Homo sapiens: one gene and its partner. The protein of the gene in region 1 interacts with the protein of each later gene in a pairwise test. Each region holds a gene or a part of one and is shown in the gene's direction. Other genes may lie near its edges. The genes, in order: CBR4 and ZXDC.

What was found.
Region 2: the proteins of CBR4 (region 1) and ZXDC interact in binary tests that used the Homo sapiens proteins (3 or more experiments, as listed by UniProt).

Annotation. Positions count from the first base shown.
Region 1 is NC_000004.12:169,004,170-169,015,815, reverse strand, and holds the start of CBR4 (3-oxoacyl-[acyl-carrier-protein] reductase), read left to right. Parts: upstream 1-5,560; 5' UTR 5,561-5,726; coding exon 5,727-5,868; intron 5,869-8,059; coding exon 8,060-8,180; intron 8,181-8,924; coding exon 8,925-9,061; intron 9,062-9,901; coding exon of another isoform or gene 9,902-9,931; intron 9,932-11,646. UniProt on the Homo sapiens protein: Component of the heterotetramer complex KAR (3-ketoacyl-[acyl carrier protein] reductase or 3-ketoacyl-[ACP] reductase) that forms part of the mitochondrial fatty acid synthase (mtFAS).
Region 2 is NC_000003.12:126,470,911-126,482,853, reverse strand, and holds the start of ZXDC (zinc finger protein ZXDC), read left to right. Parts: upstream 1-6,962; 5' UTR 6,963-6,988; coding exon 6,989-7,895; intron 7,896-10,548; coding exon 10,549-10,701; intron 10,702-10,802; coding exon 10,803-10,881; intron 10,882-11,828; coding exon 11,829-11,943. Other genes in the region: UROC1 (urocanate hydratase), read left to right, coding at 369-509. UniProt on the Homo sapiens protein: Cooperates with CIITA to promote transcription of MHC class I and MHC class II genes.

The DNA of each region.
Region 1 (11,646 bases):
GTTTTCTACTCTGCATAACTGTTTAATCAAAATCCAAACTGAGAGATGGGTCTCTGTAGCCTGTAGATGAGAAACAAAAAGCAGTGATCCTTAAAATGAGATCCCTACAGGCACACGGGTGCCTTCTGGAAATGCAGAAGCCATTACCTGCAAGTCAGTTTCAAATGTTAAACCATACAGTATCGATTCTGGCTTTCCCAGGTGACTTGCAAGAGTGAGAACGTCTTTCAGAGCCCAAGTGCAGTGAAGGCTGCCAGGCCCGTGCCTCTGATACAGATCTAGGAGTCTGAGTAGCCGCAGGGCCTGGATGGGAAAGGCTCACTTAAGTCTGGGAAATGCAGCAGGTGAGTTGAGAGCCACGTGAGACTATGCAGCCAGAAGGATAGAGGGGGGAAGGCCCTGAAACAAAGAGATGGAAATGGAATAGTGAGAGGCTGGGGTCAGAGGATTGAGGCCAGTCTTAAAACTAATTTCAGGAACACTGAGTTCTCCTCTTCTATGTGGCTTGGCAGGCGTGCTGCATTTGGGGCCTGATTTTAAGTATCCAGAGCTGGCTTTATACCATTATAAAATTTTTGGCTGGGAAAAAAAAAAGAGTTTCATAAAATTTCAGGCATTATGCTCTCCCATGGTACTTCCTGGTGAAATGTCCAACCTGTGATCTCATCTAGGCGTAATACTAACTCTACTTTGACTAACAATCTCTTTCATTATTAAGGGTGAATTTTTAATTCAGAATTTTATTCTTCATGTATAAATTATGTTATCACCTAGTTGGCTTTGTAACATAATGAATGGATAGTAGCTGTAGTTATCATTCTTTGCAATCTTTCTTTGTTATTATTCATTTACTTTATAGAACATTATGTCCTGAAAGAAGAAGCCTTCTCTGACCCCAGGCCTCCATATTGGATCAATGCCCCTAGTTATGATCCCTCCTAGCAGCCTGTACTTCTCCTTTATAGTTCTTCCCACCATTGGAATTAAATAGTGATGGCATGATTAATTGTTTAATGTCTGTCTTCCTTGCCAGATTATTTTCCCAACGAAAACAGGCACCAGGTCTATCTTAATCATAGCTGTATCGACACTGGTTCTTGCTTATAGCAATAAATTCCTTTTAAGTGAGTTATTTCATTCACTCATTGATTCATTTGTTAACTCATTTATTTAGCATTCACAAGCCCTAGGAACTGTGCTACAAACAGGGAAACAAAAACCAATGTGATCATTTCTGGATTCAAAGAGTTGGCAATTAAAAACAGAAAGTTTTTAACCATTTTATTTTATTTTTTATGTTTTTTTAAAAAAGATGAGGTCTCACCATGTTGCCCAGGCTGGTCTCAAATGCCTGGGCTCAAGTGATCCTGCCGCCTCCATCTCCCAAAATGCTGGGATTACAGGCGTGAGCCACTACACCTGGCACTTAACCATTTTAGGTGAAAGTTCCCCTTGAGAACCCAGTGAAGGAAGTGGACCCTCTTTCAAGAAGCTACTCATCTAAAAAGCACATGAGATTTTGTATTCAGCTTGGTAGGTTCACAGATCCTTGAGAATCTATTCACTATCTTCCTAAAATTATGTGGATTCTGACGTCACAGTAACTCCATGAAATACAGACTTGAAGACACATACAAGGTAAGAGGACGGGTAAAGAAGGACATCAGCATGTCCTCCTTTGGGTCAGGAGAAGCTTCCATTGCAAGAGATGTTTGAGCCACATTTTGAATGATAAATCAGATGTTACCAGGGAAAGCAGTGGGAGCATTCGAGGTTGAGAAGACAGTGTTTGGAGAAGCATGGATGTGTAGAAGTTGGAATGGTATTTAGGGAGTAGAATCAGCAGGACTTTGTGACTGATTGGATGTGGGATGTTGAGAGAGGGAAGGAATAAACTCCATGCTTCTGCCTTAGGCAACTGAGTGCCAGGTTTAGGTCTCGGTGGGCAGCCTCAGAGGCATAAACGCCAATTCAACAAAATAACAAGCTCATGGGCCACATTTTTTGTTCCCAATCAAAATGAAATAAACTTTTGTAAGTGATAAAAAGTACATTCCTTACAATTTAGATTACCCAGCAGATTGGATACAAGAATGCCAATGAGGAAATCAACATGCTTTTTAATCATAAAAGTTATATCTGTGCAGCCACACTAAGGCAGCTTTCTAATCTTTCTTCTTGAAAGAAGAGCATGGTCTGTATGGAGAAGTTAGCTGGCCACATGCAATTTGGGTCGTGCAGATTATCATCACTGCCTGAAGAATCCTGGGAGACTGCTTGCTGGCAGGAAGGGTTATGCTTCAATTATGGATCTGATAAGCTGGATGTGCTTAGTATGGTGCATTTGTAAAGAGGATTCTCAATGAATATTCAATCATAATTCATAAATTTCTTATAAATAAATTTTCCTGCATATTTGGAATCTTGGGCATTATAAATCTTGACGTATGAAAAAAATATTCATGAAAGGTACAACCCCCTTATAATTAGTTGCAGATTCAAATTTCGTATAACAGGGCAGTAGGCTTTAAATTACATCTTTTTCAATAACAGTTCCATTGGGATATAATTTGCATACGATACAATTCACACGCTTAAAGTGTACAATGCTTTCAATGAGTTTTTATTTACTTTAAAAAGTTTATGTTTTCTAACTGTTAGCAATTAAATGGTATTCCTTTTGTAATCAGAAAAGTAATACTAGGTATGCATATTTAAAAATTTGTATAACAGTCCTTATACATAAGGAATTTTCTCCTTCGATTGTGGGAGCCAAGAGAAAATATATCCTATGTGGATTTAAGTTAAAGTATAACATATGGTTAAAATATTACCACAAAAGTGGCATGTTTAGTGAGAAGGAAAGACTAAAGGTGGGTCATTCTAATGGCTTCCTTCAATGTCCTGCTGGGTAGGGGAGACCCAGTTTAATTTACAGATCCTCACTTCACTATCAGGGGCTTACAGAGAAACTTCCCCTGCTGTAACCTTCTCAGCTAATGGGTGATGTGCTGTGATAGATGTATTCTCACCCGGGATAGTGGTGATATTGTATTAAGAGGGAAAAAAAATAAATAATAACCTTGAGGTTTAACCTGAGGTATGTGTTGAATAAAAAGCCCAGCTTATCCATTTACAGTATATATACAGTGAGAAAAGTTGGAAGGTTTTCAGAATTCTGAATGTCACCTCATATCATGTGTTAGTGATCTTCATGATAGATGGCATAGATCTAAAAACCATTTTTTTTTGCTAAAATAACAATGTGTAGAAAAAAAAATAATCATTTTCCTAGCAAATGGAGAGAACTGTTCAAAAGATAAACCTCTCTGGTTTGACCTAAGGTGCAGGAATACAGTTGGCATTTAGGCTGACCCTTATATTGGTAATTTATGTAAAACAGTTTTTTCTTTCCAAGATTGCATAGTGTATAGTAGGAAAGTGAATAGACAAATTTGATCTGACCCATTTTTACATCACTGGGAAACTGTTTGTTTGTTTTTTAGAACACTGTTATTTTGAGACAGGGTCCTGCTGTGTCATGCAGGCTGGACTGCAGTGGTGCAATCATGGCTCACTGCAGCCTTGACCTCCTGGACTTACATGATCCTCCCAACTCAGCCTCCCGAGTAGCTGGGACCACAGGTAGGCCACCATGTCCAGCTAATTTTTTTTTGTATTTTCTGTAGAGATGGGGGTCGGGGGGGTGGGGGTCTTGCTGTGTTTCCTGGGTTGGTTTTGAACTTCTAGACTCAAGCAATCCTCCTGTCTCAGCCTCCCAAAGTGCTGGGATTACAGGCATGAGCCACCACGCCTGGCCTGCTAATAGTTCTTAAATGCAGCTCTTATCTTATTACTTCTGCAGTTAAAGGCCTGTTTAATGCTTGGCACCTGACTTTAAAGCTGACTATAATATAGCACCATCCCAAATTTCCTCAGGCTTGTTTCCTCATTGTTTCAAACATATATTGTTTCAAAGACACAATTTTTATGTGTGACTGTTTGCTTATATTGTTTAACTTCCTATTGTATTTGCTTTTAATAAAGTCTAATAGATGCTATGAAAACAGCCTTACAATCTCTTTTTCTTTTCATGAAGCTCACTGTCTACTACAATGCTTAGTGTGCCATTTAGGAGGACCTATGAGGAGGGAGTTTTGCTCAGGCTTCTCTGCTGCATAACCAGGAGGCTGATTTCTTACAGAAATTACCACTTGTAATTATATTTCCTTTGTTGCTTTCGCTGGCAGGAAACTCTAAGTTTATGAATCTCTTCTTTAATACTAAATAGATTCTTATAGCATGACTTTATTCGTATTTTTTCCACTGACCTAATTTATTGTTCTGGCCTTGTGGGAGAAGGGGCAGTGGTCCTCTTTGCCTTTTAAATTCAAATACTCATGTATTTTTGCAAACCATTTCAAATCTTTTTTTGGATCTAAATGGAATAGGAATAACAAATTTAAATTAATGCTCAACTTGCTTATTTATAGACTTTTTGCTCTTGTTTTCCTTTTTTCAAACCTCATCCAGCCCTCAAATCCAGCTTTTCCATGCACCCCTTCATTCTTCACTGATCTCCATTTTCTCGGAGCTCTTGTGTTAATATAATTTTGCATTTTACTAAGTATGATTTTGGATACCTCCTAGTGTTTCATGTGTATTAGTCCTGTAGTTCTGGGTTGTAGTTTTTTTAGTGGTAGGGACCATGGCTCATACTTTTCTGAATCTAGTAAAATAATATTGTATCAGAAATGCTTTCTGTTTACACTATAATTGTAACAAACATTGAATTTTTTAGCTTATTAACTCTCAGAGCACCCAGTACATCTTATTTAGAATTGCAGGAACCCATTTTTGTTTCTCTACAGCAGCCGAAGCTTGTTTCATAGATCTTGCAAGACTATTCAATCATTCAGTTAAAATTCCTTGACCTCCTGCTGGATGATGTTCGACAGGGCATTCATCTTCACGACACCCTTCGCGATGAATGGTAACATCTGGGCGGGTAGAGGTCCATTTCTACAGCAACCTGGGGGAGGAACAGGTAGGGTAGGTTTTGGTGTGGGTGCGATTCTTGGGGACTTCTTCAACAGGTAGGACATCAAGTCTGTAGCCAAAACAACACCTGGGCGAAGGGCAAATACCGGAGCCCCGACCGGCTCACGCCCAGTAATGCTTTCTCTGGGTTCTAACTACGTGATCAGGTCGTCTTGGTTTGCCAGGGAAAGCCCAGCGTCTTGACAACCCTGTCAGTTCCGAACAAACCGGGTCGATTGGTCACCGGGGCTCGAATCCCGACTGATATGACCCAGCGGGGACAGAGGATCCCCCTCAGTGCCACAAGTACATTCCCCACCGAGCAGCGCGCCTGCGCCAGTTGCTCTCATGCGTCAAGACTACAGGTCCCAGCAAGCATCGAGGCCCTCTCCAGGCCATTCTTCCGCCGGCGGGGAGCTCTCGTCGGCGTATTTGTTAGGTGTGGCGCGGAAGAGTCCGTGCGTGATGACGTCGACGCGGCGACGTCGAGCTCTTCCTCCTTTTCACGGCGTCTTGCATTACTATTGTGCGGCTGCAGGAGGTGTCGAGCGGCGTTATTTTTTTTTGCGGTTTGCCTTTTTTTTTCTTTTTTTTTTTTTTGGAACCGCGGTTGTTTAAAAGCCTGAGGGAACCTGGAGAGGGGCTCCCACTCCCTACCCTCTTTCCTCCGAGTTTGTGACTCCGAGATGGACAAAGTGTGTGCTGTTTTTGGAGGCTCCCGAGGCATTGGCAGAGCTGTGGCCCAGTTAATGGCCCGGAAAGGCTACCGACTGGCGGTCATTGCCAGAAACCTGGAAGGGGCCAAAGCCGCCGCCGGTGACCTCGGCGGTAGGTACCAAACTGGAGTTGTCCAGTTGTATGGCCGCGGTCCAGGCGCCTAAAGAAAATCTCCTTTGTAAAAAGAGCGGGTCTGGCCTTTAGGGCTCTAGGGTTACTCGATGTAGCCGCGTGCAGGCGCTCTCCCGTTCCAAGGGTAGAATGCGTCTCGTGCAGAAACCCGCGATCTCCCTATGCCTCGCAGAATGCCGGCCACGCAGCTTGCCGCCGAGGGCTGAACACTTGGGGTGTTCTTTGAGACCTCGTAGTCTTTTGAGGCCCCGCTATACGCACCCTCCGCCCTGCGGCTAGTGCTAACGCTGAGGAGCTTCCCTGTTGTGGGAGAGAGCCACGTAACAGTTTACTTTTAATGTAGGGAAAAGGGCGAGTTCTCGGCCCCCGGAGACAGGGCTGGGTCGAAAGGAGTTCAGGCAGGAAAGGTGGGAGTGCAGGTACCAACGGCTCCCTTCAGTTTTGCCCAAGGGCCGTGCCTTGGCCCTGCGCGAATGCACAAAGCAGTGTTTGATAGAGAAACCCTTTTGAGTACCAGCCAGTTTTGAGATATACCTGGTTTGCTTTAATGTTATTAAATTGTTTTGGTGAGTTTTGCAAATGGACAATTGAACTTTGTTCTGCCAAATTCTTTTTTATTGCATTTAAACTTCAGGGTTTTTTATTTCCGGCTTATTATGAATGGATTAGTCATTTTGTGAATATAACTCTTCATTGAGTTTAGGGAGAAATAGGACGTTAGATCCGAAGATGCTATTTGTTTAATCACCAGAATGGACAAAATTATACTTCATTTACTATCAGGGAGGCATGGGGAGAATAGAGGCCTAGGGGTGCGTCTTGTGGCTCTTACTGTTTTTGTGTATCTGGTTTTTTTTTTTTTTTTTTGAGAGGGCTTCCCATTATGTTGCCCGTGCTGGACCCCAACTCCTGATTTACTGGCTCTAGAGATCTTCTCGCCTCAGTCTCCCAAGGACCTGGGACTATAGACGCCAGGTGTGGCTGTTCATTTTTAAGTTAACATTATTGATCGGTTTGGTATCACCTGTTCAGTGCTGGTTGGGAGACTATTGGGCTCTCTAAAAGAAAAAAGATTCTGTAAGTTATAGGTCAGGGAGAGTGTCAGTGAATGCTTCTTGAAGCTCATATTCCTTACCATTCTAACAAAGGAGGGGAAGAGTGGTGACCCTTACTGTGTCACCCCAAGCCATCAGTGTTTGCTGGACTGGATTGAAGCCATTAGTTGGGCTTTCAAAGGTGGTTGTGGACACAAGTCTTCGGGTGAAAACCAAGAGTAAGAGAGACACAGGATGCTTTTGGGCCCTGCATTCCTTTGAATCGTGTTCCATGAGTGATTGGTTTTCATCTAGAAAGTATAATTCCCCGGGTCGCTTACTGTTTCCAAAGGCTTGATGGGGTAGTGTTGGTGTAAGCATATTTATCAAGGTCAGACAGAAAATAAAGAATTGTTTTAGCTTTTAAAAACAATCCTACATTTTAGAGTATTAAAATGGTAGATTACATAGGGAATGCTTTGTTTTCCTTTGAAGTGTAGTTTTTTTTTGGCATTTAACCATTTTTTAAAAGTGGTAAGTAACAGTTGCTTTTAGTAAAAAGTGTTTTTTTCCCCCCGTGGTTTGTAGTTTTAGCATTTTTATAGCTTCCTGTGTTGTCTCATCTCTCCTGATGGTCAGGTTTGAATAATAGTCGTTATAATATATGTGCCATAGTGCATCCGTAGCACTTAAAAAGAAGAAACCCAAGAGTTCCCGTTCAGGGCCAAAGAAACTAATTCAACAAAAACCTGACAGAATTAGACATAAATTTCAAAAAAGGAATATAAAACCCAGAAGACTGTCGAATTGGGTAGCATGAATTCAGTGTTAAAGCTATAAATATTAGATGAATCTTACAGAGCCTTTATAACTTGAAAAAGCCCTCCCCCCTTTGTTGATTAAAAAGAAAATTTTAAAATTAACTTTCTGTAGTAGTACTTTATTTCCTCTTTGTTCCCGCATCCCAGTTTCATTAGACCAACTCTATGAAAGCCAGGCCTCATGACATTACTTTTTTAATCTTTAGGTTCTAGATTAGCACAGGCCTGCCATCTTAGATAGATGCTTAACAAATGTGTATTGAGTAAATTTAAAATTTGAGTTATAAGTAATTCTTATTTAACTTTGTTGTGTAGGAGATCATTTGGCATTTAGCTGTGATGTTGCTAAAGAACATGATGTTCAAAATACATTTGAAGAGCTGGAGAAACATTTAGGTCGAGTAAATTTCTTGGTAAATGCAGCTGGTATTAACAGGTTGGTCACAGATTTAAATAAGTTTCTTATATATATATTTAAAACTTTTATTCCTAATATGTCTTTGATTGGTATAAGTTAATATGTTTATTTTGCTTCTAACTGGGAGAAAAAACTATTTTAAAACTTGTCAATCCATAAATTATTTTCCTTTATATTGAGATACAACATATAATAAATGTCCAGTTGAGTCGATTTTAACATTGTAATCATCACCCATATTGAGCCGTAGAATGTTTCCAGTGCTCCAGAAGGTAGTGTCTTCTCAATACTTCCTTGTTGGTAACTGTTTTCTGAGTTTTGTCACCACAGATAAGTTTTGCCAGTTTGTGAACTTAATACTAATAGAATCATGGAGTGGATATTATTTTTTAAAAGATGAATTTAGGAGAGAATATTTAGATAACATATTAATTTTCTTGCTAAACAAGGCTTAGTATGGCAGTTGCTCAGGCCATTCAAACTATTTTGGCTATATGTTACTACTTTTTAGGGGTTAAGAATATTTGCCACTCAAGCTGAGAAGGGGTAGCAACCTGTCTTCCAAGTGGATCCTTTCTGGTTTATCAATTGTTATTTTAATGTTTCTCAAGCCAAGTTCAAAATGGGACTCTAGGTATTCTAGCTATTCTAGCTCAGATAGGAAGCACTTCTTGCACTCTCAGTAAAAATGTTACATTAGTCTTGACCTTTTTGGTTTTTATCTTGTTATTATATGCTATTATATGCTGTTTCTTTTTGTAGGGATGGTCTTTTAGTAAGAACAAAAACTGAAGATATGGTATCTCAGCTTCATACTAACCTCTTGGGTTCCATGCTGACCTGTAAAGCTGCCATGAGGACTATGATTCAACAACAGGGAGGGTCTATTGTTAATGTAGGTGAGTCTTCACCTTTGTGAATTTATGATTATCCCATAATACCATACCATAAAAATATTTAATCCACGAATTTGTGATTTATTGTGAAACATGAATGAAATTTATATTATCTGTGGAAAAAAGGATTTAATTAATTGATTAATGAGTAAAATAAGAATCACACATTCACATCCCTATAGGAGTCAGGCAGGTGTTAAATGAGTGACACCACTGAGTACTAGAAAAATGACAGTACCAGCCATGTGATAAATGATATCCAGCTTCATTGTCCAGAGCCCATATGGAATGGTGGAGGCCACCACTTAGATTCAGTAGATTGTTGCCGTGCAAGAATGTGGTCCCAGTTTTGCCAGCAATTTTGATTTTTCAAGAGAAATTGGATCATTCTGATTTTTATGTGAATTTTTTTTTTTTTAAATAGAGACGAGGTCACACTATGTGGCCTAGGCTGGTCTTTAACTCATGGGCTCAAGTGATCCTCCCGAAGTGCTGGGATTATAGAGGTGAGCCACGTGCCCAGCCAGGAACCTGATTTTTAAAACATGGACAAGGAATTAAAGTAGACAGTGGTGGCTAAATAATATTGTCTACAGCAGTTTCATGGGTTACTGTTAAATCTTGTGTAGAGGTTTAAAGGAAGATAAAATTTCTCTGTTTTTAAGAATGGATGTAAGTAACCCCTAGTTTTCAGTTCATCTAACCCACAGGGCAGATAAGCTGTGGAGTATATGCCTGTAGAACTTAAAATGCAAAATGACTTGAAATTTTATTTCAGTTTGGTAATTTGGAAATAATAGTATACCATCTGCTTTTTATTTTCAAATGGTAATACCTTAAAAGGCCACAGAAGGGAGATGCTGCTCCATAAAAGTAAGTGACCCTGTTCTTTTAAATGTAGGAAATGGTTTTTCAAGCCAGAATTTAGAGTTTTTCTGTTTTGAAAGTGAGAAAAGGAAAGAATACTATGCTAATAAACTAAGGGGACATGAGAGCATTTTGGACATTTACTCTTAAAAATTTAAGGGATCCGTTTTCTTATGTAAGAGATTAGTCAATGAGTCAACCTTTGCCTTTTAACACAGCCAGATAAGGACTTTGGATACTTACAAGCAGGCAAACAGGCCTGTATCTGTCACCTGATAACCTGAGGTATATTTGTTTAACTCTAAAATCTTCTTTTTTTTAGGTGTATTTAAAAAACCCATTAGTCCTCCTTATGCATGCAAAACTTTTAGAATTGAGCTAAAAGTAAATAATAGATAGTAAATTGAGAATCTTACTACAGGAAGGACTACTTTAAACTGCCAGACACTTCATTGGTATTTCAGAAATTACCACTTTTTGACCTGATGAACAGTAGTGCGTGGCACGAATCAAAGCTGCTAAAGCAGCTTGTGTTTTTTTTTCTTTTAAAAGCCACTCATATTTAGCAGTTGGGGGTTGTATACTAACTTTAGTGACACTACTGTTAATAGGTTCTGATAACCCGCTACCATCGGACCAGCCCTGTTTTGGTATTTTTTTCGTGCATGTATTTTTCTTTTTTTGTGTCTCTGTATTTTTCTTTCTGATAAACACCCCTCTATCCATATGCATTTCTTCAGTCTGATGTCTGTTCTCTCTGTGTACTTCACAGTTCTCTTCCTTTGTTATTAATTGGCCTACAATATATAATGTAGATAAATATTCTAATACTGAACTTGTTGATTCTAATAGAGAAATGTTTGGAATGTTTTCTTTTTTTAAAATTACTTTAAAAAAATTTTGTGAGGTCCTTGATTAATTTTTGTATCATAAGTACAGGTCAGTGGTGCAGAAAATTACTTCCCCACTTCTGTTTTGCAAGAGTTTATTTGCATATAGTTGATATTTGAATTAAAAATTATTATTACATATTCATTAGATGTGGTCACTCAAGAATCTTCAGTAGGCAGTACAGTTTACAATATATCACTGAATGTAATGAAATTGCACTTTTACAAAAAGTGTATAATTGAAGCTTTGCCAATTTAGATTGACAGTACAAGCATGTCTCGCAGATATTGTAGCTTTGGTTCTGCTCCACCGGAATAAAGCGAATATGTCAAGAATGTAAGTCACACAAATTGAATTGCTGCAATCTCATGATAAAACAAATGGGTGAGGAGTTGCTTCTTATGTATGGATAAACAAAGTTGTTTCTCAAGATGGAATCTACTTGTGAAGATGTGAATACTGTTGAAATGACAAAGGATTTAGAATATCCTATAAACTTAGTTGATAAAGCAATAGCAGGGATTGAGAGGAGAGGCTCCAATTTTTAAAGTTCTACTTGGATAAAATGCTATCAAAGAGCATCACATGCTGCAGAGAAATCTTTCATGAAATGAAGAGTCAATCAATGTGGCAAATTTTGTCTTATCCAATTGTTTAGTTTCTCAGTGCATGTAAAAGTTATATTATGGTCTATTAAGTATGCAGTAGCATTATATCTAAAAAAAATGTAAATACTTTGTTGCTAAAAAAATACTTTATTGCTAAAAAATGCTAATGATCATCTGAGCTTCTGGCAAGTCATAATCTTTGCTGGCGGAGGGTCTTGCCTT
Region 2 (11,943 bases), on another chromosome or scaffold:
GTGGCATCATCCAGGGGAGACCAGGTGGAGGGAAGAAAGAGGACTGCAGGGACATTGTGAAGGTAGAGCTCAGGCTGAGGTGGATTCTAGAAGGGAGGGAGGTGCTGCGGAGGACTCAGGAGGCAAGGCCATTCTTGGAGCTGGGGGAGCAGGACTGAGTGTGATGACCGCCAGTTTCAGATCCCAGAGGAGGGCCAGAGACAGGGAGCCTAAGCTGGGGGTGGAAATGGGGCAGACACAAAAGGGCAGCTGTCCCCACGGACAGCCTCAGAGGTCCCGAAGCAGAGAGGCCCCAAGTGTGGGAGCCAAGACTCACGTGGGGAGCCCGGTTATGTTGACATGGACTGCTATCCCCCTCCTTGCCCTAGGTGGCCCGGCGCTGCTGGTCAGGGAACCAGAAGGCCTATGAGATCATCTGCCAGACCATGCAGGAGAACAGCACCTTGGTGGTGACACTGCCTCACAAGGTGGAGGACGAGCGGGTGCTCCAGCAGGCCCTGCAGCTCTGAGGGAGCCAGGAGTCGCGGCCCCTGCCTCCCTTCCTCCCTGGCGATCCTCACCTGCCCAGCCATGGCACACACCCTTCCTGCACACCCGCACTACCTGCACTTCTCGCACATCCTCACGTGGCCCTTATGGTGCCCTGTGCAGGGTGCCACCACAGCCTCATTTTACAGACAGCCCCCTGAGGCCCAGAGACATGCAGCTCTCTGTCCACAACCATGCCACTTGCATGGGAGCCCTGAAGGCTGTCAAAGTCCATTTAGGGCCAAGTCCCAAGCCTGCCCGGGGGCCCTGCGGTGAACACTGGTCAAGCTCTCTCCGGCTGGGATGATCACACCCTCTGCTTCCTGGCCACCTGCCAGCCTCCATGCAACTCTGTCTGTCTGCTGCCCATCTGCTGTCTGTGCAAGCAACTTCTGGACCCTGGCACCCTGGGCTGCTGGCCTGGAGGAGTTCGGGAAGGAGGATAGACCAGGAAATAAAGGGTCAACAGAGCTGTGTGCTGCACTGTGGGCTGGTGGGACGGGCAGGCCGGGTCTGCCCTAAGGATAAATGATCACTTACTGGGGAAGAAATGAGAGAGCAGGGGCACCCCCCTAGGCCAGCACAGCCTGAGGGGTACAGCAAAGGGGACCCTTTGCTGGCCCCTGAGGCTGGAGTCTGGCACCCCTTCCCCAATCCCATAGCCCGGTAATGACTGGGTCCAGAGCCTCGTGAGAGGTCACCGGGATGGGGGAAGTGGCCTCTGTCAGGGCCAGGGCTCATGAATCTCATTCTCTTAGCTGGGCGTGCAACAGACCAACAGATAACTCATCCTAAACAGAGAAATGAGAAAGAGTCTGTGGGTGGGCCTCTGAGGGCCACAGAAAACCAGACACCCCACATGTCGGTGGATTGGAGAGGGGCAGGCCACTGCCCTCTCCAGGACCAAGCCGGGTTCTTGGTCCCCACCCTCCCTGCACTCCGCATCTCCTCCCCAGCAGCCATTCTCCCCTTTCCCTTGTGAACAAAAGCCTAGTTTTGTGTGGGCAGCAATATAGGGTAAATAAAACCACCTGATTCTCCAGCCTTCCTTGCTGTTAGGAGGGACTGTTGGCCTAGTCCTGGCCCACGAGATGAGGGTGGGGTCTGTGGGGCAGGGCTTCTTGAGAGCCGTCGTTTTTCTAATAAAATGGACAGATCCAGCGGGGTTGCTTTTTGCCTTCGCCCCTTCGTCCTGCCAGAACCAAGATGTGGGGCCTGGAAACACAGCAACCAGGTTGGTCAGCTAGGGCGGCTGCCACATAATGTCTGGCACTGGGGCCCAAACAACAGAAATGAAACACATTTGCAGGCTGGAAGCCCAAGACCAGGTGCCAGCTGGCGTAATTCCTGGTGAGGCCAACTTCTCACTGCATCCTTCCATGGCAGAGACAGAGAGGGGAGAGTGTTACAGAGAGGGGCAGAGACAGAAAGACAGAGACAGAGAGGGGAGAGTGTTACAGAGAGGGGCAGAGACAGAAGGACAGAGACAGAGAGGGGAGAGTGTTACAGAGAGGGGCAGAGACAGACAGAGAGTCACAGAGAGAGACAGAGAGAGAGGAAGAGACAGAGAAAGAAAGAGATACAGAGAGGAAGAGACAGAGAAAGAGAGAGATAGAGAGAGTAAGAGACAGAGAAAGAGAGAAAGACAGAGATAGTGAGAGAGACAGGACAGAGTGTGTAGGGACGAATCGTCTGTCCCCACATCTCCATGAAAGCACCCTGCTGCATGGATCTGTGCACACATCTTAAGAGCGGGCCACAGGGCCCTGGCATCACCCTTTCCCCATCCAGCACCTTCCCTCTTGAAGGACAGGGAGGGCTCTGGTGGCTTCCAGCTGCACACAGACCCCAGACCCCCTCTGGGCTCCATACCAAGCCATGCCAGGGAGCAAGCTACTTCCCTGGCCCCTGCATGCCAACCTGCTGTCTGCTGCTGCAGTGGTAAGTGACAGCTGACTCCCACGGGGCTCACAGCGGAATTGGGGCAGCTGGTCACAGCTGTAGTCGCCATGGAAGGAACAGCGTGGCTTCTGATGTGCCCAGTGCCATCTTCTTTTTCAGAAGGCAAGGATGTATAGTCCAGTTAGAAATGTTTTCATCAAAATGATTAAAAGAGAAACCAGTTGGCCATGATGAGTGTAGGGTTCAGTTGCCTTAAGAGTTGGAGGTGAGAAAGGCTCAGGCCCTGCAGTACAGCATTAGGGTCCTCCCCCTGGGCAGCGCCTGCTCTCTGCAAACCCAGGGTCCCTGGGAACTGTATGCTTTCCTTGCTGGCAAGCCAAGGTCAGGGAGGGAGGGCCTGGCTGAGTGATGCACTCTCCCATTCCAGTTTTCCCAGAGTAGACAACCACACAGGGGCCTGTGGGCCGGGCATGACCTGCAGTTATGTTTTATTTATATATTTTTTAGAAATAGGATCTTGCTCTGTCACTCAGGCTGGAGTGCAGTGGTGCAATCATGGCTCACTGTAGCCTTGAACTCCTGGGCTGAAGTGATCCTCCTGCCTTAGCCTCCCAAGTAGCTGGGACCACAGGAGCACAGCACTACACTCAGCCTGCAGTTGTGTTTTGTTTGGTCTGTCCTGTTTTTAAAAAAATTTGACTTTGTCACCAATGTTTACAAATTGGGAGAAATCCAGAGCTTATTTTTTGAAAATCAAGATATAAGGTAACACCATGTTCTCACCACCTCTGTGGCAGTGATTTGCTGGGGGCCCCTCTGGGCTGGCCTAGCTCTCTGCACTTGGCCACAGTCCCTTCCAGTCCCTACAGAACCCATGGTGAGGCGGAGCGTGTATGCTGTTTGTCCCTTGGCATGAGAGTCTATGTTTCCTGTGCCCACCTGTCTCCCACATTTGTGTGACTTGTATGACCTCTGCTGGGATTTGAACTTGTGACCTTTGACAAAGAGATGCTCTTTTGCTCCCAGTGAACCTCATCCCCACTCCCATCAAAATTTGGGAATCCTGGACACTTCTCTGTTAGCAATCTCAAGATCCACATGATGCCTTTTAGCCCAAAAGAGGTGCTGGACATCCAGCGATACCTGGGCTGATGGGATTTCTCCCCAGACACAAATAAATCTGAGCGTGCATGCGTGTGTCATCTGCGTCCCTTCCCCTGGCTTCTCCAAAATCCTTTCCACACAGCCTGGAGAGTACAGGTCTGGCTGGCCAAGGCACAATCTCTGTGGTCCTTGTAATTTGGGGCACTCCTTTGAGACTACCAAGTTCAAGTCTCTGCCTGAGCCCCACTGGATGACCACATTGAGCTGACTCAAGCCCACCTGGTGAAGTGGCGCGTCTGACCCTCGCCAGGAGTCCTGTTGCTCCTTTCAGGGTATCTCAGCAGAAGGCTGAAACAACCTAGTATCTGAAACAACCTAGTATCAGATTTGAGCTTTGGTTGGGTGGGGGAGTCTTAGGAAGCGGGGATTTGCTCTGGATTGGCTCTTACCAGAAATCGGGTCAACACCATGACTAGGTTTCTGACTAAATCCTATATACAGAGAGGGAAGCACACAGACAGACAGGCTGTCAGGGGTACAAAAGCGGCGGCTGCTCACGTTAGCTGAGAGAGGGGCTGCTGGGTATCTTGTAAATGGCACAGCAAGTGACCTCGCTTTATCTGGGTGGAGACACATCATGAAGTGGCCTTGCTTTGTCTCATGTCATTGTGTTTCAGTGACCTTGGCCTAGGTTGGTTTTCTGCGTGATGGTTCAAGTCTTACAGAACAGAGTGGCCCAGCTGTAGCACCCGGCCAGTTTCTGGATGGCAGGGGCTGCCCTTTTTCTTTCTCAGTCCCCTTCATTTTACACATGAGGAAACTGAGGCACAGAGAAGTTGTGATAGTTTAAAAATGGCTGCAAATTCTTTCCAGCACCTCCCATTGAGAGGTGGAGTACAAGTTCCCCTTGCCTGGGTCTGCAGTGTCTTATGACTTCTTTGATCACGAGAATGTGGCATAATCAATGCTGCGCAACAAGTTGGGCATGGTGGCATATGCCTGTAGTCCAGTTAATTGGGAGGCTGACCCGGAAGGACTGCTTGAGGCCAGTTGGAGGTCGCACTATGATTGCACCTGTGAATAGCCACCACACTCCAGCCTCAGCAACACAGGGATGGACTTGCTGGGTCATGTGGAGATTATGTTTAGCTTTCTGCAGAACTGCCAAACTGTTTTCCACACCGCAACGTTATACATTCCCACCAGCCATATGTGAGAGTTCCAATTTTTCTATATCCTGTTTTTAAAAAAATTACCACTATTTGAGTAGGTGTGAAGTTGTATCTCACTGTGTTTTGATTTGCATTTCCCTAATGATTCGTGATGTTGAGCCTCTTTTTATTTGCTTATTGGCTGTTTGTATTATCTTCTTTGGAGAAATATGTCTATTCAAACCTTTGCCTTTTAAAAAAGTGGACTGTTTGTCTTCTTGCTAAGAGTTCTTTATATATTCCAGATAGTAGATCCTTATCAGATATTCGATTTGCACACCCTTCTCCCATTCTGAGTTGTCTTTTCACTGTCTTATTGGTGTCCTTTTACCTGAGTAAGTTTTTAATTTTGATGAAGTCCAAGTTATCTATTTTTCTTTCTTGTGCTTTCAATATTATATCTAAGAAACTATTCCCTAATCCAGGGTCACATAGATTTACACCTACTTTTCTTCAAATAGTTTTATGTCTTACGTGTAGGCTTTTGCTCTAATTTGAGTTAATTTTTGCCTCTGATGAGAGATACACGTCCAAATTGGTTCTTTTGCATGTGGAGATCCAGTTGTCCCAGTGCCGCCATTATTGAAATGACTATTCTTTCCTCTACTGAATGGTCTAGGAACAATATGTTTTCGGCATAAACTGATATATATAATAGATGTATCCTATTCTTTTTAATATTATAATTTGTGTTACTTAAAAAAATACTCTTAATAATAAAGCATTCATGTATTTAACAAATATGCACCAAGAGTCTTCCTGGGCACACACAGTGAATAGGACACAGTTCCTGGGCTCCAGGAGCCTACATTCCAGAGAGGGAGAGACAGTGAAGGAGCAGGGAAGGAACTCAACAAAACAACGGGTGATGAGAGCTCTAAGAGCAAACAGATCAGACAGAGGTGGGAATACGGGACTGGGTAAGCATGTGCTTTGGATCAGAAGGGGCGCAGAGTCCTCCCAGAGGAATCAGAGATCAGCTGCGCCAAGTCTCTGAGGCTGGAACCAGCTTGGCTTGCTGGATGAACTGGGAAAAAGAGGTGGGGTGCGGGGGAGGGGTGGGGGGGGCAGCGGGAGAGTGGCGGGAAGTGAGGGCAAACAGGTAGGGGAGGGTAGACTAGCAAGGCCATAGGCGCCTTCGGGAGCAAGGTGGAGGTGAGCATAATTTGATGTGCAATTTTTAGATCATAAAACGGTGCCCCGTGGATGGGAGCGAGTGGAGCGGAGGGAGACCGATGACCAGCTAGTAGTTATTTTTCAGGTACCCAGGAATAAAGTGCGGGTTTGGATCTGAGTGGTGGTGAAGTTGAAGTGGAGGAGTCCAGATTGAATGCGGAGGTGTACGGTGAGGTGGGGGAGGGTGAGGACCGGAAACAGTAAGTAATTAAGCTGTTGCAGAGTGAGGTTGTGCCAAGTTTAGTAGGAAATACAGTTGGAAATACAGGCAGGGGTCCTGCGTATCAGGGAGGCCCCGTGTGCCGAGCAAGGACCTGGGCCAAAGCAAACGAGGTCTGTGCGCCAGCGGCGGCAGGCGAGCTTGCACTTAAGTGAGCTGGGGGTAGGCGTCCGGCCTGTTGGACAGGTTCGAATCCTGGATCTGCCGGCTGCCGAGTGACTCGAGCTCGCCGTCCCTGTTTCCTCACCCCTGGGTGACCGCGCACGCTTAATCAGCTCGGACAGGTACAGCCCCTGGGACGCAGTCAATGCCTACGAGAGGTTGCCTGTTAAGTGTCTGAAATATTAATACGATTCGAAGTCAAGACAAGCCTCGTCTTCCACGCCAGCGGGAACGAGAAGGAATCGCTCAGCGTTGGGAGCCTCACCCCGTCCCCTGTCGGTCCCGTGCCCCGCCGCTCGCCCTCGTAGGTGCCGGCGCTCCGCCCCCCGACCCCGCGCCCCGCCCCCCGACCCCGCGCCCCGCCCCCCGACCCCGCGCCCCGCCCCCCGACCCCGCGCCCCGCCCCCCGACCCCGCGCCCCGCCCCCCGACCCCGCGCCCCGCCCTAGTCGGTCCCGGCGCCCCGCCCCCGCCTCCGCCTCCGGCGCCCCGCAGCCCAGCCTCACGTCACGTCAGCCCAGCAGGCCTCGCGCATCGCCCGGCGGCGTCCGCGCACGCGCGGTTCCGAGCCGGACTCTACGCCGGGGCTTGGCGCGGATCGCGTCCCGGGGCGGCGCACGCACACCTGGGCGGGGCGCGGGCAGCTCTGCGTCCGAAGCTGCTCCGACGCCGTCGCTGGGACCAAGATGGACCTCCCGGCGCTGCTCCCCGCCCCGACTGCGCGCGGAGGGCAACATGGCGGCGGCCCCGGCCCGCTCCGCCGAGCCCCAGCGCCGCTCGGCGCGAGCCCCGCGCGCCGCCGCCTGCTACTGGTGCGGGGCCCTGAAGATGGCGGGCCCGGGGCGCGGCCCGGGGAGGCCTCCGGGCCAAGCCCGCCGCCCGCCGAGGACGACAGCGACGGCGACTCTTTCTTGGTGCTGCTGGAAGTGCCGCACGGCGGCGCTGCCGCCGAGGCTGCCGGATCACAGGAGGCCGAGCCTGGCTCCCGTGTCAACCTGGCGAGCCGCCCCGAGCAGGGCCCCAGCGGCCCGGCCGCCCCCCCCGGCCCTGGCGTAGCCCCGGCGGGCGCCGTCACCATCAGCAGCCAGGACCTGCTGGTGCGTCTCGACCGCGGCGTCCTCGCGCTGTCTGCGCCGCCCGGCCCCGCAACCGCGGGCGCCGCCGCTCCCCGCCGCGCGCCCCAGGCCTCCGGCCCCAGCACGCCCGGCTACCGCTGCCCCGAGCCGCAGTGCGCGCTGGCCTTCGCCAAGAAGCACCAGCTCAAGGTGCACCTGCTCACGCACGGCGGCGGTCAGGGCCGGCGGCCCTTCAAGTGCCCACTGGAGGGCTGTGGTTGGGCCTTCACAACGTCCTACAAGCTCAAGCGGCACCTGCAGTCGCACGACAAGCTGCGGCCCTTCGGCTGTCCAGTGGGCGGCTGTGGCAAGAAGTTCACTACGGTCTATAACCTCAAGGCGCACATGAAGGGCCACGAGCAGGAGAGCCTGTTCAAGTGCGAGGTGTGCGCCGAGCGCTTCCCCACGCACGCCAAGCTCAGCTCCCACCAGCGCAGCCACTTCGAGCCCGAGCGCCCTTACAAGTGTGACTTTCCCGGTAACCGCGCTCTCGGGGGCGGGCGGGCTGCGCGGTGTTGCAGGCAGGTCTGGGGTGCCACGTCCGCCCCACAGAGGGGCCTGCCAGACCTTAGCAAGCCGGGGACGCAGGCTCTTCGGGATTTGTATTCTAGCTCCTTCCATGTCATTCGATTTGAGATCTTGGCCCTGCCCTGCCGCAGGGATTCCGATGGCAGGTAGCGCAGATCACCACAGCTGCGCTTCCCAAAGGTGGCGGCAACAGATATCCTTAACCTGCTTGTGCTTGATGAAAGCGGCACGCATCTTCACAGAGTGGCACGGAGCTATGTGTCAGGTCTTTATTTTCCTCAGTCTCGTCATTTGTTTACGGGGTGCACACTCCGTGCTAGAGGAGCAGAGATGAATGTGGCCAGATTCAGGACCTTAACACGCTGGGAGGATAGCCACAGGTGTGCGCACATCCTGGCTTTTTTTGCCTTTTGCACTTTGATTTCCGTTGAACCTCACAGTTTTGTGAAGTTTTAAAAATTAGCCGTCTGTGAAGGTTAAAAACTGTCCTCTTTTACAGATGAAGAGACAGAGGCCGAGCCTTGTGGATAAAGTCCACTGCTGGTGGCTGGGCGCGGTGGCTCACGCCTGTAATCCCAGCACTTTGGGAGGCCGAGGCGGGCGGATTACGAGGTCAGGAGATCGAGACCATCCTGGCTAACACGGTGAAACCCCGTCTCTATTAAAACTACAAAAAATTAGCCGGGCGTGGTAGCGGGCGCCTGTAGTCCCAGCTACTCGGGAGGCTGAGGCAGGAGAATGGTGTGAACCCCAGAGACGGAGCTTGCAGTGAGCCGAGATCGCGCCACTGCATTCCAGCCGGGGCGACAGAGCGAGACACCGTCTCAAAAAAAAAAAAAAAAAAAAGTCCACTGCCTGTTCTTTCTCCTGTGTGTTGACCTGCAGTTGTTGGGAATGTAGGACTCCAACACAGTGAGCTCTTCACCAGGATGGGCAGCTTTCCCTGCTTTCACAGGGATAGGGTTCCTCCAGAAGGGCAAGAAAGGATTCCTCCCTGGAAAGGCAGAAGAATGGAGTCGGCTGGGTGGCAGAGCCCAGGTGGGGATTGTGGTCTGTGGTGAGGGCCCAGGAGGAAGGACCAGTCATTCAAACAGAAACTGGAATGTGTGCCTAGCATGCCCCTAACCTGTATATGCACACGGCTCTCCTTATAATGTCCTTAAACAAGAATTTTTAAAGGATGAGATGAGAATTATGAACGGGTTTTATTATTTTTTCCCTCGCATATGCCTGTGGACTGTCTTGCGCATTCCTCTTCAGAGAGAATGTGGCTTGAGGCCACTAGCTCAAAGTCTTTTTCAGTCATACACTCTTGGGAATCTGATGGTGGCTGTAGACCCTTTCCCTGCTAAAAGAGTATCATTCTGTGTATGACACTGGGAAGGTCAGGGATCCCGCCTGCTTCCAGGCATGAGGTCTCTTGAGGGTTTTGTGTTGGCTGATCCATGAGGCTTCTTGTGTTGAGATGAGATTAGATGGTTAGATGAGATTAGATGTTTAGAAGCAGGAGCAGGACCAGGGAAGCATCATCAAAGGGCCCAGACCTGAGTTTTCTGAAGGCCTGAGCCAGGGAGTGGGAATGATGAGGGTCTCTAGCAGGTGAGATTGCAGAGGGAGAACCAAAGGGTGTAATTATCTATGGGGGTGTGGGGGGTTCTTGCCAAGGCAGAGAGAGTCTGTGTTCAGATTTACATGACCAAGTGTGTGAACACACCGAAGCCCAAAATACCCTGGAGGTATTTTGGGACCAGATTGAGGCCAAAGATCAGCATTTCTGAGTTAGATGTTGCTGGGGAAAGTAGGGTTCCTTGGGCTGATACTTTTGGGCAGTGCTATGCCATGTACATCTGTGTGGCAGTTCATAGGCATGATAGTATCTCGTTAAAGGCTCCAAGAGGAGCTGCAGCAAAGACTCCTGTTAAACATCCTGCAGCCTCATGTTTTCCACCCTGTTGGAGCCCTGAATGTTTCTGTCGGAGGAGAAGTATTGCTGTGGAATTGTTGAGGCTTAGCTGCTTTGGCCAGGGGTTAGGATTGAGGTGAAGATTACAAAGCAGGGAACCTAAGGAAATTGCGAAAGGAAAAAGAATCCAAACAGCAAGGGACAGGGCTGGCAGTTGGAGGGTGTCAGGGAGGAAATTTGGATATGTAGAGGATGCAGCATCACCCCCAAGGGGTGAAAAATCCTGGCTAGTAGGATGATTTGTAGCCTTTCAAAGATCAACCCTACCAGACAAAATCTTGTTCCTTAGTATTTGATTTCTCTCATGGGGTTCTTGGGTCTCAGTGTGTGTGCAGGATCAGTGCTCCGGAGCCGGCCAGTAGATGGCTGTGAACGGAGGACTTTCTCTTTATCGGTTGCTCCATCTCCAAGTCATGTTGCAACAGGTGGCCAGCGTGTGCCTATTGGCTGCCATTAGCTGCCTTCCTGTGGTGATCACAAAGCCAAGCATTAATGGTCTTCCCTTTTTAGAGAGTGCTTCTGAGTCATGTTTTCCCTTGTCTGCTTCAGTGTGAACAGGGTCTGGTGGGTGTGACTAGCATTAGCTATGTTGTATAATTTTTGCCACGCTTTGAGCAGGGTTTGTGTTTTCCTTGTTCAGGCTGTGAGAAGACATTTATCACAGTGAGTGCCCTGTTTTCCCATAACCGAGCCCACTTCAGGGAACAAGAGCTCTTTTCCTGCTCCTTTCCTGGGTGCAGCAAGCAGTATGATAAAGCCTGTCGGCTGAAAATTCACCTGCGGAGCCATACAGGTAATGAGCTAGGGAACGCACAGCATTTGGACCCAAGATTTGTCTTCATCGTAGCTGTTGGAGTTGTAAATTTTATGCTGTATAATTTTTTCTTTTATAAGGTGAAAGACCATTTATTTGTGACTCTGACAGCTGTGGCTGGACCTTCACCAGCATGTCCAAACTTCTAAGGCACAGAAGGTAATCCTTACATTTTGGTTTGCATTATCAGGTTTGAAAATGAGTGGTTTGTCAGCAGCAGAAACCAATGAATGAAATATCTGTAGACATTTTTTAAGTTGTTAAAAAAGGAGCTCAGTGTTGATGATTTGGAAAATTCAGAAAACTGTAAAAAGAAAATTGCTCAGAATCTCATCACCTGAAGTCAGTTTTTTCTGTGTATACTTTTTTTAAAAAAAGCTAAATTGGCATACTCTGTTCTTAAAAAAAAAACAATTCCAGGTTTTTTTTTTAACTTAACATTGTAGAATAAGCTTTCTTCATGTAATTACAAGTTTTCATGGTGGTAATGACAACCCTGGAGACTGTGTCCAGGTGACACTCAGCACTTTACATGTGTGTCTTCTACCTTCCCAACAACCTCAAAGCTAATGTTCTTATTCTCCCTGTTTTACAGTGAGACTCGGAGAGATTCAGTGGTTTTTCTGTACTTGCACAGCTGGGCTCTGAGGATTTAATATAAAAATGTCACTTAGGAAAAGACACAGTCTTTACAAGTTGGCTTAAGAGAGTCCTTTTGGCATTGCAGCTGATGCTCTGTGCACATTTCTCACGACCGTCTGTCGCTCGGAAAGCTTGTTGATCATTGGGGTTTCTAAACAATAGAAACACCTTCATCAATACATTTGGGACTCCACTGTTCTTAGATTAGCTTATATTAGATTGAAGTAGCATTAATTGTTTGATGTGTGACTCTGGGGTCAGCTTAGTCATTAAAGTAGAATTTTTATGGGGTAGCTAAATTGCAAATCTGCTCACATGGATTAAAGACAGAATTAAGATTTTCCGAAATGTACTGATCATTTTTGTAAATGCAAAGTTTGTGTTTTGGTATGTTTTGTAGAATTTTAAAGAATTATGGTGAGTTGTGTGAGGAATCACAGCTCCTTTATTTTTCTGTCTGGCAGGAAACATGACGATGACCGGAGGTTTACCTGCCCTGTCGAGGGCTGTGGGAAATCATTCACCAGAGCAGAGCATCTGAAAGGCCACAGCATAACCCACCTAGGCACAAAGCCGTTC